2 separate regions of the Homo sapiens genome follow, and region 2 is linked to region 1. The links come from fine-mapping of genetic effects on gene expression. Tissue or cell type: sun-exposed skin. Region 1 holds a variant in brackets; the other region holds the start of a gene. All regions are shown on one strand. Distances are between the middles of the regions.

Region 1 (7,550 bases):
CTAAGTTTGGGAAAGTGTGTCACACAGCAAAAGGTAACTGATATAGAGGTGGGTGTCCTCCTTAATACTTTTCTTTTTTCTTACTTTATCTATAGGGTAGCCTTCCACATGTATTTCTCTAGATTTTTATTTTATTTTTTATGTTTATTTATTTATTTTTTGAGACAGAGTCTCACTCTGTCGCCCAGGCTGGAATGCAGTGGTGCAATCTCAGCTCACTGCAACCTCCGCCTCCTGTGTTCCAGCAATTCTCCTGCCTCAGCCTCCCGAGTAGCGGGATTACGGGTACATGCCACCACGCCTGGCTAATTTTTGTATTTTTAGTAGAGACGGGGTTTCACCATGTTGGCCAGGCTGGTCTCGAACTCCTGAACTCAGGTAACCCGCCCACCTCAGCCTCCCAAAGTGCTGGGATTACAGGCATGAGCCACTGTGCCCGGCCATTTCTCTAGATTTTTAATAGCATTTTGTGAGGTTTCAAAAATATCCTGGGATTTTGCCTGGCAATAGAATAAATGTATATATTCATTTGGGAAGTAAATGAACTCTGGACTCAGGCCCAGTGACACATTTTCACCAGCAATACCACTATGACTCCACTAAGAGAACAACTGGAGTCTCCGCATGGCCTCTCCTGGCCGCTGCCCCATGCACCTCTTCTCTTGGTTAATTTTAATGAGCCTTTTCATGGTAATGAACCATAACCACGAGTACAATAGCTTCTAGGGAATTCTCTGAGTCCTTCTAATGAATTTCAAACTTGAGGGTGGTCTTGGGGCTGTCCCTAACTTTGTACTTGTATATTTAGTTTGCTAAAGATTATACCATGAAGGGGTGTTGAATTTTACTAGATGCTTCTACACTGAGATTTTCATACTTTTTTTCTCCTTCATTCTATTGTCATGAATCATGTTGACCTTGCAATGTGAAATCAACTGTACTCCAGTTCCTGGAGTACACCCAACTTGGTTGTGATGAGTTACCTTTTTTACATTATCATTGGATCTGATTTGCTAATATGTGGTTTGGAATTTTAAACAATGTTCATGAGAGAGAATACCATGTGTGTTTTCTCCCATCATGTCCCTTTCGAGTTTTAGTATCAAATTTGTTAGCCCTGTAGAACAAATTGGTAAGAAGAGTTCCCCTTTATCATTTGGAAGACTCTGTGTAAGACTGATGCTCTTTCTTCAATTTGAGTCTTTTTTTTAACGGATTCTAGTTCTCCTTGTCATCAATTTTCCTGAATACATTAGTTACTGAAAAATATGACTCCAATCTTGGTGTAACCATAGACTTCTATGTTTTTTCTGGTCCTATGTCCTAGCAAGCCTGTTAATATTTTATGACTACAGTTAACAGTAACTTACTGCATATTTTCTAATAGGTAGAGGAGAGGATTTTGAATGTTCCCAACACAAAAGAAATGATGTTTGAGGTGATGGATATGCTAACTACCTTGATGGATCATTATACTTTGTATATACATGTCAAAATATCACACCAAATCTCATCTTGAATTGTAGCTCCTATAATTCCCATGTCGTGGGAGGGACCCGGCAGGAGGTAACTGAATCATGGGGCAGGCTTTCCTGTTCTGTTCTCCGGATAGTGAATACATTTCCTGAGATCTGACGGTTTTATAAAGGGGAGCTCCCTGCACACGCTCTCTTGCCTGCCGCCGTGTAAGACGTCCCTTCGCTTTTCCTTTGTCTCCTGCCATGATTGCGAGTCCATTAAACCTCTTTTTCTTTATAAATTACCCAGTCTCGGGTATGTCTTTATTAGCAGCATGAGAATAGACTAATATGCTCTGGAAGATATTATCTTACTCCAGACATTATTTTAGATCTTTGCCAATTTGACCCGTGGCAAACAGCACTCCAGCATAGCTTTAATTTCCACTGCTCTTGTTCTGATTGGGGCTGAGCATCTATTCGCCTGTATAGGAGCATTTGTATTTTCTTTGCTCTGAACTGTGTTTATATTCTACGCCCACTTTTCTTTTCTTTTTTTAAGAGATGGGGTCTCACTCTGCTGCCCAGGCTGGAGTGCAGTGGTGCAATCATAGTTCACTGCAGCCTCCAACTCCTGGGCTCAAGGGATTCTCTCACCCCAGCCTCCTGAGTAGCTGGGATTACAGGTGGGTGCCACTATTTCCAAACCACTTTTCTTTGGTGATCTAGATTTCATTTGCATTTGCAGAATATCTGTATATTAAGGAATTTAACCTTTATGTGGGATACAGCCAGGAAAAACTTTTTTCCCCATTTGTCTTTTCACTTTGACATGCATAAACTTTAAATTCTCAGGTAGTCACCTTTATCAAGTCCCATTTTCTTTTACCTGGGCAGTAACCTAATGGGATTTTCTACTTCCAGCCTTCCTGCCACCTCCTCCAAATCTATTACCAACAGTGATTCTTGGTGGTTGTGGTGCCTCATGCCTGTAATCCCAGAACTTTGGGAGGCCAAGGTAGGAGGATCACTTAAGGCCAGGAGTTGGAGACCAGCCTGTGTAACAAGACAATACCCTGTCTCTACAAAATTACCAAAAAAAAAAAAAAAGTTAGCTTGGTGTAGTGGCACACTTCTGTAGTCCCAGCTACTTGGGAGGCTGAGGCGTGAGAATCACTCGAGCACAAGAGTTCGAGGATACAGTGAGCCATAATCACGCCACTGTTGTCCAGCCTGGGCGAAAGAGACCCCCTTTTTTTTTTTTTTAAATAAGAACAGTGATTCTTTTCAAGCACAATTCAGATTCCAGTTCCTTCTCTGCTGACCATGCCAGTAGTCTCCATCCCACTCCCAGAATAGCCCAAAAGTCCCTCCACCCCTCACACTTAAAACTTTCCCACGAGATCACAGGGTTCTTTCTCACTGCACTGAGACGTGCTCCTGCCTCCTGCCCCTGCCTCGGGCTTTGCCCCAGCCATTCCTCTCCTGAATTCTCGTCCACTCTTCCTTTTGGTGCTTTAAGACGCTCCTTATCCTAGAGACCTATGTGAGCAGCGCCCCCACGTCACTCCCAGGTTTCCCGACAGCATTTCAGCATTTACCACCGACCTTGGCGCATCCGCACCTGCGGATTGATCTGAGGATTCCCCCCCAACTTCCAGCACTTGGCTCTCAGCTGCAGCCACGCCTGCCGGGCCTGCTGCAGGCGCTCAGGGTATTACTTAAGTCAATGATTGCAGGTTCTCGCATCCTATTTAAAACCTTTTCCACTAAGAGATTTAAAACACGTGTCCCCTGCTTTGAACTTTCACGTTACATTTCTTACGTGTAAACCTAGGAAGCCTTTGGAGATAACCCCGGTCTCTGGAGAGGCTTGGATAGACCTCGGAGCCCAGACCGCCCGGGAATTGCCGTGCCCGGCTCCTCCCGACCCCGGCACGGATGCCTCGGCGGAGAAGTTGAGCCAGGCAGAAGCGAGAGAGT[C/A]CAAACCTCTGTTTGCCCCGCCACGCCCGCCCGAGGGCCCCACGTGGGCCCCAGGCGCAGGCGCGTTCAGTTCAGGGCCAGACGCGCGGAGACCTGGGAGCTGGCGGGGCGGGGCCGGACTGGGCGCGGGGAGACCTGGGAGCCGGCGGGGCGTGGGCGTGGCGGGGCCGGGCGCAGGGGCGGGGGCGGGGCAACCGAGGGCGCGCGCGAGCCCCAACGGCCGTCGCCGCAGCGCGGGAAGACGCGCCACAGATGCCCCGCCCGCGTGGGTTTGAACAAGAGGCCCCGCCCCCGGCCCGCGAGTGGCCAATCAGCGGGCGTAGCGCGCGGAGAGCGCAGCGTCGACCCTTTGTGGACGCCGAGTGGCGGTCGCTCGCCCCGCCCCGCGCCGTCGGGCGCTCCTTCCTCAGCGGCGGGAAGCTGGCGGCAGCGGCGGTGGCGGTGGCTGAGCAGAGGACCCGGCGGGCGGCCTCGCGGGTCAGGTGAGCGGGCCCGGCGGACCGCTAGGGCGTCTACGGCGGCGTGCACTTTTGTGCTGCAGGGCGCGGAGGAGCCTGGGGGCGGTGCGCGGAGTCTGTGGCTCCTGGCGCTGGGTCCGGGGCGGAGGCGGCGCCCGGGACCACCGCTGGGGCTGCCGCGGCGCCCTCGCCGCCCTCCTGGGCGCTGGTTCCCCCGCGGGGTGGCCGCTGCTGAGGGGGCCCGGGGAACAGAGGGGCCCGGGCCGCCGTCTGCGTTCCTTGCGGAGCGCGGAGCTGGGGCTTTGCCGAGGCCTGCGGGCGGCCCCACGCGGGAGCCGCTTCACGAGGGCCCGGCTGGGGTACGCAGCGGCGTTTCCCGTACCTCGGCTCTAGTTGCAGCGGAGGGAACGCCAGGCGCGCCGCAGCCCCCTCTGTCGGAGCCCGGCCGCGGAGAGGGCCGCGGATGTGGGAGGAGGCCCAGACCCCGGGCGGGTCGGCCAGCGCCGTCTTCCCTGGGCTCCTCCGGCGGTGCGAGGTGGGACTAGGGAAAGTCCCCGAGACACTTGCAGAAGTCAGACGCAAGCCTCCCTCCGCGTCTTCAGACGCTTCTCGCCCCGCAAACAGGATCGTCGTGGCAAAGGCTCCGACAGCTTGCTGGAATAGAGGGTCTCCGCTGCCTCGCTTCTCCTGTGGCCTTCGTGTGGGACGCACGGGACGGCGGGACCCAGATAACCGTTCTCTCAAAGCGAGCCACAGAAAAACATTGCCTGTTCACAAAACTTACGTTTTATCAACTTTCTACGTACAACCACTCTATTTTCAAGTGTCACCGTGTTTTATAATTAGGGTGGAAATCCAGAATACAAAGTGAGTTACACCCCTTTTCTAGGAAGAGTAGTAGGCTGTATCTTGGAAAAGGGGCTAGGAAGTTTCCCTCAACTTGCCACTGGAACATGTTTTCAGGGAAAAGAAGGAGTGTGTTTCGTTCCAAGTAACAAAAGTACCTGCAATTGGCTGGGCGCGGTAGCTCACACCTCCCAGCACTTTGAGAGGAGGCCTAGGCGGGTGGATCTCCTGAGGTCCCGAGTTCGAGACTAGCTGGCCAACGTGGTGAAACCCCGTCTGTACTAAAAATACAAAAATTAGCTGGGCGTGATGGCGCATGCCTGTAATCATAATCCTAGCTATGTGGGAGGCTGAGGCAGGAGAATCGCTTGAACCAGAAAGGCAGAGGTCTCAGCCGAGATCGTGCCATTGCACTCCAGCCTGGGCGACAGAGCGAGACTCCGTCTCAAAAAACAAAAAAAACCAAATACCTGAAATTAACATAACAGTAATTGTTCATGAACAGCCTCCAGGAGACTTGTAGTGGAAGGTGGAGCTCCCACTCAGTACTCAAGACTGCAGACCTTGCTCCTCTTCTCCCTGTTTTTCCGATAAAGTATTTCAAAGCTTATCTGATGTGTGAGGAATGGAAATTGTTGATGATTTGCTTAAAAACCCGAAACTTTGAAGTGGCTGCAAGTCCAGCTGTGAAGGTGACAGGTTAGGTCAGAGTTGAGTCTGTCCCCAACCGTCCCAGCCCTACTGATCAGAATCTGGGAATCTGCGTTTTCAGCCAGCCTCGTGGTATTGCTCAGCCACGAAGGTGTGGCCACTGCTGCTGTAGTGAAGGACCAGTCCCCGAGCTGTACTCTGCTTGCCTGAGCAGCACTGCGGGGCTGCTCCCTGCTGGCCTCTGCCTCGGTGGGCCTAGGTTGCTCTGTCCCTAGTGGCCTGTTGGCTGTTCCACCTGCCATGTCGGACATGTCCTCAGTCCGTCTGGCCCTCTTCGTTTTTCTCTGTCTGGTCGGTGCTTGGTTTAGAAGCCTGAGGGCAGTGCTGGGAGTTGACTGAGGGCTTGGCTGTCCCGGTAACAACCTGTGGAGTTGGTGGGATTTTAGGCATTTAACTAGATGTGTAGAAAGAGCTTCAAAACTGAGCAGGGGGCCAGGCATGGTGGCTCACGCCTGTAATCCAGCACTTTGGGAGGCCGAGATGGGCGGATTGCCTGAGTTCAGGAGTTCGAGATCAGCCTGGCCAACATGGTGAAACCCCGTCTCTACAAAAAATACAAAAATTAGCCGGGTGTGGTGGCGCGTGCCTGTAGTCCTAGCTACTCGGGAGGCTGAGGTAGGAGAATCGCTTGAACCTGGGAGGTGGAGGTTGCAGTGAGCTGAGATTGCATCACTGCACTCCAGCCTGGGGGACAGAATGAGACTCTGTCTTAAAAAAAAAAAAAAAAATTGAGCAGGGAGCTAGGCTCCACAGCCCCACCGGTATGGTATAGGGCCCTTTCTCATTCCATATTAGAAGGAGTTAAGCAGCCTCAGGCAGAAGTCACACAGGAGGCCCTCAGGGAGCTGGGCCCAGCCCAGGCATCCCTCGGGGCTGGTTAAGACCATGCTCTTGCTGACTTTGTCCCAAACACAGATATAACCCAATTCAGGGTGATCCTCACAGGCCAGCTTCTCCGGGCCCAACCTTATCCTCTTCACTCCTGAACACATGTTCTGGGTGACAGCTCTTTGGGGTCACGTGACTGTAAAAAGCACCTGTGAGCTTTACTCTTTTTTGTATTAATAGTAATAAACTTGTCAGCATTTTAAAATATTGGGTACAACACAGAATTAACAGCTGCTGGAGATTTGGAACATTGGAGAGGAATGATTTGAAGTGACTGAACAGGGATATTCTCCTGGTACCAGAATGGGATCTGTGCATGGGATGAGATGCAGTGGAGGATGATGGGGATTATCTCTCGTCCCTTGTAGAACTTGTGTAACCCAGGCACATCTATGCAGGTCCCTGGGTTACACAAGTCCTACAAGGGGCGAGAGAGAATCTCCATCATCCTGGAGGATTCTTTCTGGCCCCTTGTAGCATTTCCCACCCTGATGGTGGCTACCCTTCTGTGTTTTCACAACTTAGATTAGCTTTGCCTGTCCTGAAGGTTCAGATCAATAGAATCCTACGGTACATATTTTTGTGTGTGTCTTGCTGCTTTTATTCAGCATAATGTTTTGAAATTTATCCGTGTTGCATAAATCATTGAGGTATGTTGCTGAGTTGCATTCCTTTGTCAGAATACACCAGATCGTATACATTCAACTTGTTTTAAGTGTTTTTTTTGTGTGTGTGTGTTTTTTTTTTGAGACGGAGTCTCGCTCTGTTGTTCAGGCTGTAGTGCAGTGGTGCAATCTCTGCTCACTGCAACCTCCGCCTTCCAGGTTCAAGCAATTCTCCTGCCTCAGCCTCCCGAGTAGCTGGGACTACAGGCACGTGCCACCACACCTGACTAATCTTTTGTATTTTTAGTAGAGATGGGGTTTCATCGTGTTGGCCAGGATGGTCTCAATCTCCTGACCTGGTGATCCGCCTGCCTCAGCCTCCCAAAGTGCTGGGATTACAGGCATGAGCCACTGTGCCCGGGCTGTTTAAGTCCTAAAAGAATGCTTGTGGCTGGGTGTGATGGCTCACTCCTGTAATCCTAGCACTTTGGGAGGCCGAGGTGGGCAAATCACTTGATGTCAGGAGTTCGAGACCAGCCTGGCCAACATGGCGAAACCCCGGCTCTATTAAAAATACAAAAAACTAGCTGGGCGTGGTGGTG
Region 2 (7,550 bases), 44 kb before region 1:
AGTAAAATAAGCCAGACATCAGGACAAAAGGACAAAGGCTGTGTGATTGCGCTTACGATGAAGTACCCGGAGTAGCCGCGTGTATAGAGCAGAAAGTGGAAGGGGCTGGGCGCAGGGAGGAATGGGATGTTACTGTGTAGTGAGGACAGTTTCAGTTTTACACGATGAAAAATTTCTGAAAATGGACGGTGGGGGCGGTTGCAGAGCGTGAATGTGCTTAGAGCCACTGACCGGTACACTTAGAAATGGCTAAGATGGTAATTTTCATCTCGTGTAATTTTCATCTTGTATTTTACCATAAAATACAAATCTATGAGTCCTTAATAATCAAGAGAGAAGGCCAGGTGCAGTGGCACACACCTGTAATCCCAGCACTTTGGGAGGCCAAGGTGAGAGGATCACCTGAGGTCGGGAGTTCGAGACCAGCCTGACCAACATGGCAAAACCCTGTCTCTACTAATAATACAAAATTAGTCAGGCGTGGTGGCACATGCCTGTAATCCCAGCGACTCAAGAGGCTAAGGCGGGAGAATCGCTTGAACCTGGGAGGTGGAGGTTGCGGTGAGCCAAGTTCCTGCCATTGCACTCCAGCCTGGGCAACAAGAGCAAAACTCCGTCTCGAAAAAAAAAAAAAAAAAAGCCAGGCGTGGTGGCTCACGCCTGTAATCCCAGCACTTTTGGAGGCTGAGGCAGGCAGATCATGAGGTCAGGAGTTCGAGACCAGCCTGGCCAACATAATGAAACCCTATCTCTATTAAAAGATACAAAAAATTAACTGGGTGTGGTGGCACACACCTGTAATCCCAGCTACTTGGGAGGCTGAGGCAGGAGAATCACTTGAACCAGGCAGGCGGAGGTTGCATGAGCCGAGATTGCACCATTGTACTCCAGCCTGGGCGACGGGACCGACAGGGATCTGGGCATCTGCCCGCCACACCTGTCCTCCTGGGAGGCTGGGAGGCCTGGGGCCCCCACTCTCAAAGCCTACCCTTCCGGCCACTGTCTCTCTACAGTTATAGAGCAAAGGCCCCCGACCCAACCCTGCCGCCGTCACCAGAGGAGCAGCCCCACAAGCCCCCACAGCGTGGTCACACCTGGCTTGGGGGACAGCCGCACCCCACATGCAAGGTAGCCCTTGGGAACTTCTGCTCCAGATGCACCAGGTGGGGAAGGCCAGAGCTGGCCATTCAGGGTTTTTTAGGGCCAGACAAGAGCAAGGCCCTGTGTCTGCCCGGGAGGTAGAGCAGACCACACTGGCCCCATGCACAGGGGCTCTTTGGGTCCCTCGTCCCATCTTTCCAGCTCCTTCCAACTTTGCCCCCTGGACATTTCTTGCTCTGACCCTCCCTTCCCTTATTCCTGGCCTTGTCTCCCCCTGGGCCCAGGCCTTCCCAGACTGACTGGACAAATTAGCAAGCAATCACCAGCTTTGGCTTCTGCAGGGTCCAGACAGGCCAGGAGAACGGCTGGTGAACCCACCGGACAGCAGGGCGGTTTCTGGTGCACACATCGGGATGTGAAGTTGTACCCCATGTCTGCAGCTTGGACCTCACCACTGCTGTGTCTGGGCCGCAGGGAGCTGTTCTGGCACGTGACTCAGCCGTGGGATGTTCGGGTGACTTCCTGTCTGAAACCTGCTCTCCTGTTGGTGAGGGATTCTCTGGGTATGAATCGCTTTGCTGGGGTCAGAGCAGGGAGAGCCATCTCCCTGACGGGCTTCTCAGAGACAACACCCCAGGTGCCGCACAGCCCGGGGCAGCCTCCACTGGTCCCGAAGGCCCGGTGGGAATAGGCAGGGCCAGTCCACACCCCCAGGCTGTCAGTGTTTGGACTCCCAGGCTCCTGCCTGCCCTCCACCCCAGCCTGGCTTCTCCACCTGGCAGGGGCAGGGGAGCCGGTACACGGCTGCCAACCCCCCAGTTCATACCCACAGCTCCTGCCACCCAAGGGACCCAACTTTCCTTTCCCAGACCCCAGTGAAGGACCCAAAGAGAGGATTCAACTGACCTCACTTGAATCGGCTATTCCCGGACTGCCTGGCAAAGGCCAGAAGGCATGGAGGGTGACAATGGCCTGAGCCGGGTCCGCATGTCACTCCTGGACCCCTCACCGGGGGCGCAGAGGAGGCCTGGTGAACGTGACAGACCACCCAGTGGGGCGCAGGACGGGGCAGGTCCTAGGAGGCTGCTGGGGCCAGCGACAGGAACCCACAGCTGTCCCTGGCCATCACCCCCACTGGCCTGATGTGGGCTTCGTCTATTGCTGCTCCGAGGGTGGGGCTGCCCTGGCCCAAAGACCCGGGAGGCCAGTGACCCCATGAGCAGTGGCCTGTGGAGGCGTGTGTTTGCACCAGATCCCCTAGAGGATCACTGTCCCCTGGGCAAGTGTTTCTGGAAAGCCAAGGTAGGCCCTGCCCTGAGACCTGCGCCTCCCCGCCAGGGCAATGGGAAAGCCCAGCTTTCCAGGGACTCCACTGCCACCCACACAAAACCCTCTGAAATCGCTGTTCGGAGGCAGCCTCCAGCCATGCGGCCCTGCAGCAGGGGGCAGCTGTGATCCACGTGTCTGGGGGAAAGTGTAGACTGGGGGCTCGGCCTCCACCGGCCTCTCCTGGCCGTGGGTGTACCCACCCAGGATGGCGGCTTCTTCGCTCAGTGACCGTCCCTGCTGCGGTGCTGGGCAGTGTCGCTTGGAGACATTTGTGGTCCCCAGCTCCTTCCCTCAGCCCGGCCCTGTCCCCACTGCTGAAAGAGCCTGGCTTGGATGGAGCTTGGCAGGCTCGGGAGTGGGCACCAGGGTGGGTCTGTGCCCTGAAACTCAGAAGCAGCCTGGAGGTGAGTGGAGTTGTAGGTGCTGTCCACAGCCAGCTGGCTTTGTCCAAGGAAACTGGGCCCATCATGGCCGGAAGCCCCACAGTGAGGGGGACTGTCCCAGGCAACCCTGCCTGCCCACCCTCCAGTTCCCACAGGGCCCCTCACAGAGAAGCCCACCCGCAGGGCTCCTGGGCCAGGCCAGGCTTGGTTCTGGATGCAGGAGGGGTTGAGGTAGGGCTGGGGGAGGAATGTGGAGTGTGCAGTAGGCTGTTCTTCCCACACGGCCCTGCCCCATGTAGGAAGAGGGAGGCGGGGAGGGGAGGGTGCTTGTGTGCAGTGGCTGTGCCGAGCCTTCCAGGACATGCAGGTGCCATCCTGGTCCCGGGGCTGCAGTGGGCGCACTCAGCCTCTCTACTCCTGGCACCCCGGACAGGGACTCCTGGGAGGACACAGCCTCTGGGAAGTCACCCTGCTCCGTGCTTGCCTGGCCCGAGAGTGGGCAACACCAGGCCTGAGCTGCAGAGGAGCTGGATTTTGTCTTTCCAGGACCCCTCCCTGCAGCCTTTCCAGGACCCCTGTCCTGCCTTGCCTGTCTGGGGACACACGGACAGCCGCTGTGCCGCGCCAGGCCCCAGCACCTGCCTGGGAGCTCCTGAGTGAGTGGAGCCTGGCTCTGAGTGCTGCTATTGCTAAAAGAGGTAAGACTGGGGTTTCCTGCCACTCCCTCCCTCAGGAAGGTGACGAGGCCATGCTGTCATCACCAGTAAGATACCCCAGCCCGGTTGGCTAACCCCTAGCTCAGCCCTGTTTGTGGTTAGGGGAGTTCTAGACAGAACATAATTAGACCCCTGCTACTTCCTGAAACCTCAGCTAGGACTGCAGGGAGGGGTGCGAGGCTAGCCACGCAGGCGGGGCCCTGGGTAAGTCGCTGGGCTCTGCGTGCTGGGGAGTGGGCCTGGGGGGCCAGGCTCTGGGATGGGGCTGGGGGCTGGGAGCTGGAGGCGGGCAGAGGGGGATCTGAAGGCAAAGGTGATTTGTTGGTAAAGATGGAGGCTTTGTTGAGGGTTCTTAATCTGGGGTCCCTCCCGAGAGAACCCAGGACCCCCAGTGACCACAGATGTGATGGGGCCGGAGGATTTGGGGGAGAGGGACAACAGTTTCCATTGTATCTTTGTCACCGCCACCTTCCTGGAGACTTTCTTCTGGAAAAGGCTTCCCTGGCTACTGGTCCAGATGGGGGTGAGTCAGGGGGCTGGACTTTGTCCCTGGAATCTCTCCTTGGCCACTTGCTTCCGTGATTGGTCGGGGGGCACTGAAGGGCTGGGCTTCTCTCTGTGGGGCCTGTGCTGCTTGTGGGGTTACACAGAGGGAAAAGCAGGGCAGTGGGGGCTGTGCTGCGGTGAGTGGCAGTTGGCCCAGTCACGTGACAAGATCCTGGAGCTGGGCAGGTCACCGGCCTTTGGAGTGGCGTTCGGCGCACCAGGCACAGCGGGGCGGGGGGCCCAATACCTTCTGTCAAGTGCATGACGTGGGTCTGTACCACTGCAAGGGACTGGGACTGACCACTGAAGACTGGCCAGTTGGGCTGAGCACAAAATGATATTTCAGGAGATTGGCCAGGCCGAGGTGGGAGAGCAGAGGCTCCTGGAAGAAGATGAGGATAGGGGCTGGGCACGGTGGTTCATGCCTGTAATCCCAGCACTTTGGGAGGCCGAGGTGGGCGGATCACTTGAGGTCAGGAGTTTGAGACCAGCCTGACCAACATGGTGATACCCTGTCTCTACTAAAAATACAAAAATTAGCCGGGCGTGTTGGCACACGTCTGTAATCCCAGCTACTTGGGAGGCCGAGGCAGGAGAATCGCTTGAACCTGAGAGGCGGAGCTTGCAGTGAGCCGAGATCGCGCCATTGCACTCTAGCCTGGGCAACACTATCAAATTGGGAAAAATAAGAAAGTTGACAATGGGCTTTGGATGGGTGTGGTGGAGCAGGGAGGTTGGAGCTGGTGACTCCACATTTCCCTCCCTAGGGTTTGTCTCAAACGTGACGGCAGAAAAGAGGTCATAGGTTTGCCTGGTGCCAAAGCAGGTGGGAGTAAAAGACGGAAATGGCTAGGAATGGCCAGCAACCGTGAAACAGCTTAGAAATTACAGGCAATCCAGCCAGGTGCGGTGGCTTACGCCTGTAATCCCAGCACTTTGGGAGGCCAAGGCAGGTGGATCACCTGAGGTCAGGAGTTCGAGACCAGCGTAACCAATATGGTGAAACCCTGTCTCTACTAAAAATACAAAATTAGCCGGGCGTGGTGGCACACGCCTGTAATCCCATTTACTTGGGAGGCTGAGGCAGGAGACTCACTTGAACCCAGGAGGTGGAGGTTGTGGTGAGCCGAGATCGTGCCATTGCACTCCAGCCTGGGCAACGAGAGCGAAACTCTGTCTCAAAAAAAAAAAGAAAGAAAGAAATTACAGATAGTCCACAAGACAGACCTCAGCAGCCTGAGGAGCTGTTTTTGACAAATGGGCTGGAATGAGGAACTGCTCCCTGCACATGGCAGGGGCCAGGGCTCCTTCTCTGTCCTTTTGTGTCTGTCTGAAAAGTTCCATCATAAGTTACAAAACAGGCTGGGCGTGGTGGCTCACACCTGTAATCCCAGCACTTTAGGAGGCCGAGGCGGGCGGATCACCTGAGGTCAGGAGTTCAAGACCAGCCTGACCAATATGGCGAAACCCCTTCTCTACTAAAAATACAAAAAATTAGCCGGGCATGGTGGCAGGCGCCTGCTAATCCCAGCTACTTCAGAGGCTGAGGCAGGAGAATCACTTGAACCCGGGAGGCAGAGGTTGCAGTGAGCCAAGATCGTGCTATTGCACTCCAGCCTGGGCAACGAGAGAGAAACTCAGCCTAAAAAAAAAAAAAAAGTTACAAAATAGATTTTAAAAGACTGGAGGAGCACAGCAACTTGCAGGCCAGAGAGCTCCAGGGACAGTGGCTGGGTGAGGTCATGCTAGATCCTGTTATTGAAATGTCCATCCCAGGAACATGTGGTGCTTCTCTAATCTGGAAAATGGATTCATTGGCCGGGCATGGTGGCTCACGCCTGTATTCCCAGCACTTTCGGAGACCGAGGCCGGCGGATTTCTTGAGCCCAGGAGCTCGAGACCAGCCTGGGTAACATAGGGAAACCTCGTCTCTAAGAATAAAAGTACAAAAATTAACTGGGCATGGCAGCAGGTGCCTGTAGTCCCAGTTACTCGGAAGGGAGGATGATGTGAGCCTGGGAGGTGGAGGTTTCAGTGAGCAGAGATTTTGCCACTGTACTCCAGCCTGGATGAGGGAGCAAGACCCTGTCTCCAAATAAATAAATAAACAAACAAACAAACAAATAAAGCAAGAGAGAGAGGGAGAGGGTTAGGGAGAGAGAGAGAGAACAATTTTAATAGTATTTAAAGAAAAAAAAGCTGGGCGTAGTGGCTCACACCGTAATCCCAGCACTTTGGGAGGCTGAGGCAGGAGGATCATTGGAGCCCAGGAGTTCAAGACCTGCCTAGGCAACATGGCAAAACCCTGTTTCTACTAAAAATACAAAAAAAGTAGCTGGACGTGGTGGTGTGCCTGTAGTCCCAACCACTCGGGAGGCTGAGGCAGGAGAATTGCTTGAACCTGGGAGGTAGAGGTTGCAGTGAGCCAAGATCGCGCCACTTTACTCCAGCCTGGGCAACAGAGCAAGACTCCATCTCAAAAAAAAAAAAAAAAAAGAAAAGAAAAGAAAAGAAAGAAAAGAAAGAAAAGGCAAAAAAGGCAAAAGAAAAAAAGAAAGAGAAAACATGGGTTCATGGAAGAAGCACGGAAAGTGTGAGGCAGAGCAGCCTCGGAGCTGACACGCTGAGTGGGAGAAAGGCGGGTTGGACACAGGAGAGAGAAGTCCAGGGAGCAGTGGAGGGCTGGCCTCAGTGGGCTGCCAAGGTGTGGCTTGAAGATGGAGCTGGACAGGGACACATTTGCCCAGCATGGAGGCTGGGTGATGAGGGGCTTGGTCATTTGCTGATGTGAGGTGGAGGCAGGGGCCCAGGGCCAGCAGGGACAGGAGATGCAGCTGGAGCTCAGGGATGGGTGGACGGGGGTGTCAGGCTGACCTGGGCCCACACACACTGTGGTCTTGTGGCTGGAGTCATCCGAGGGACCTCACCATGGCCATCATGTCTGGCCACGCTGCCCTGAATCCAGTTGGAGTTGGATGGTGATAGCGGGGCCTCTGCCTGTCATAGTCCCTCAGAGCAGATCAAGAACAGAGTCCCCTGGAGTCCACCAGGCCAGGCTGGCATTGCTGGTGCTGTGAGCATGGTGGGCTATCCCCTACCCAAGCCTCCGGCAGGCTGGGAGCACCTTGCTGCTGTTTCAGAAGTGAAAGTCTGCACCGGGGACCTTTCCCACAGGGCTCAGTCACTCCCACCCACCCCACAGCTGAGAGGAGCCCCACTGGTGGGCCAGACAGCTGGGGCGATGAGAGGAAGGGACGGTCCCCATGCACAGCCCAGGAGGGACTCCCCCCCCCCAGGAGGGTGGTGCCTGCTTCCTGAGTGGAACAACACAGGAAGCCTCTGCCTGGCCTTGTCCTTCCACTTGAAGACCCAGCCCCAGGGGAAGCTGAGAGAGGGCCCGGGCCCCACTGCACCCTCCCCGAGGAAGAGCAGGGCCTGAAATGTGGGTGACCTGCTGTACCCCACGCCCCTTTCT

Direction of the effects. Positions count from the first base shown, and alleles are read on the strand shown. Sizes are in standard deviations (SD) of each study's normalised expression.
For the expression in sun-exposed skin of the gene that starts at base 3,682 in region 2, allele A in region 1 goes with a lower level than allele C (moderate effect, 0.71 SD a copy in GTEx).

What was found. PIP is the estimated chance that this variant, and not a neighbour inherited with it, causes the effect.
Region 2: GPR132 starts here. The variant in region 1 is fine-mapped to the expression of GPR132 in sun-exposed skin (GTEx, PIP above 0.99). The same link has a PIP of 0.9 or more in unexposed skin.

What each region holds. Positions count from the first base shown.
Region 1 is chr14:105,017,371-105,024,920 of GRCh38, reverse strand. It overlaps CDCA4 (cell division cycle associated 4), which reads left to right and starts at 3,838. Exons shown (of 2, transcript NM_017955.4): 1 at 3,838-3,922. RefSeq lists enhancers at 3,043-3,102, 3,118-3,631, 4,146-4,661, 5,113-5,773 and silencers at 3,403-3,472, 3,503-4,392, 4,403-4,492. The variant C/A (reference allele first, on the strand shown) is at 3,441.
Region 2 is chr14:105,061,562-105,069,111 of GRCh38, reverse strand. GPR132 (G protein-coupled receptor 132) reads left to right here and starts at 3,682. Exons shown (of 4, transcript NM_013345.4): 1 at 3,682-3,733. RefSeq lists enhancers at 2,534-2,603, 2,814-2,983, 2,659-3,176, 4,854-4,993, 5,104-5,203 and 3 more.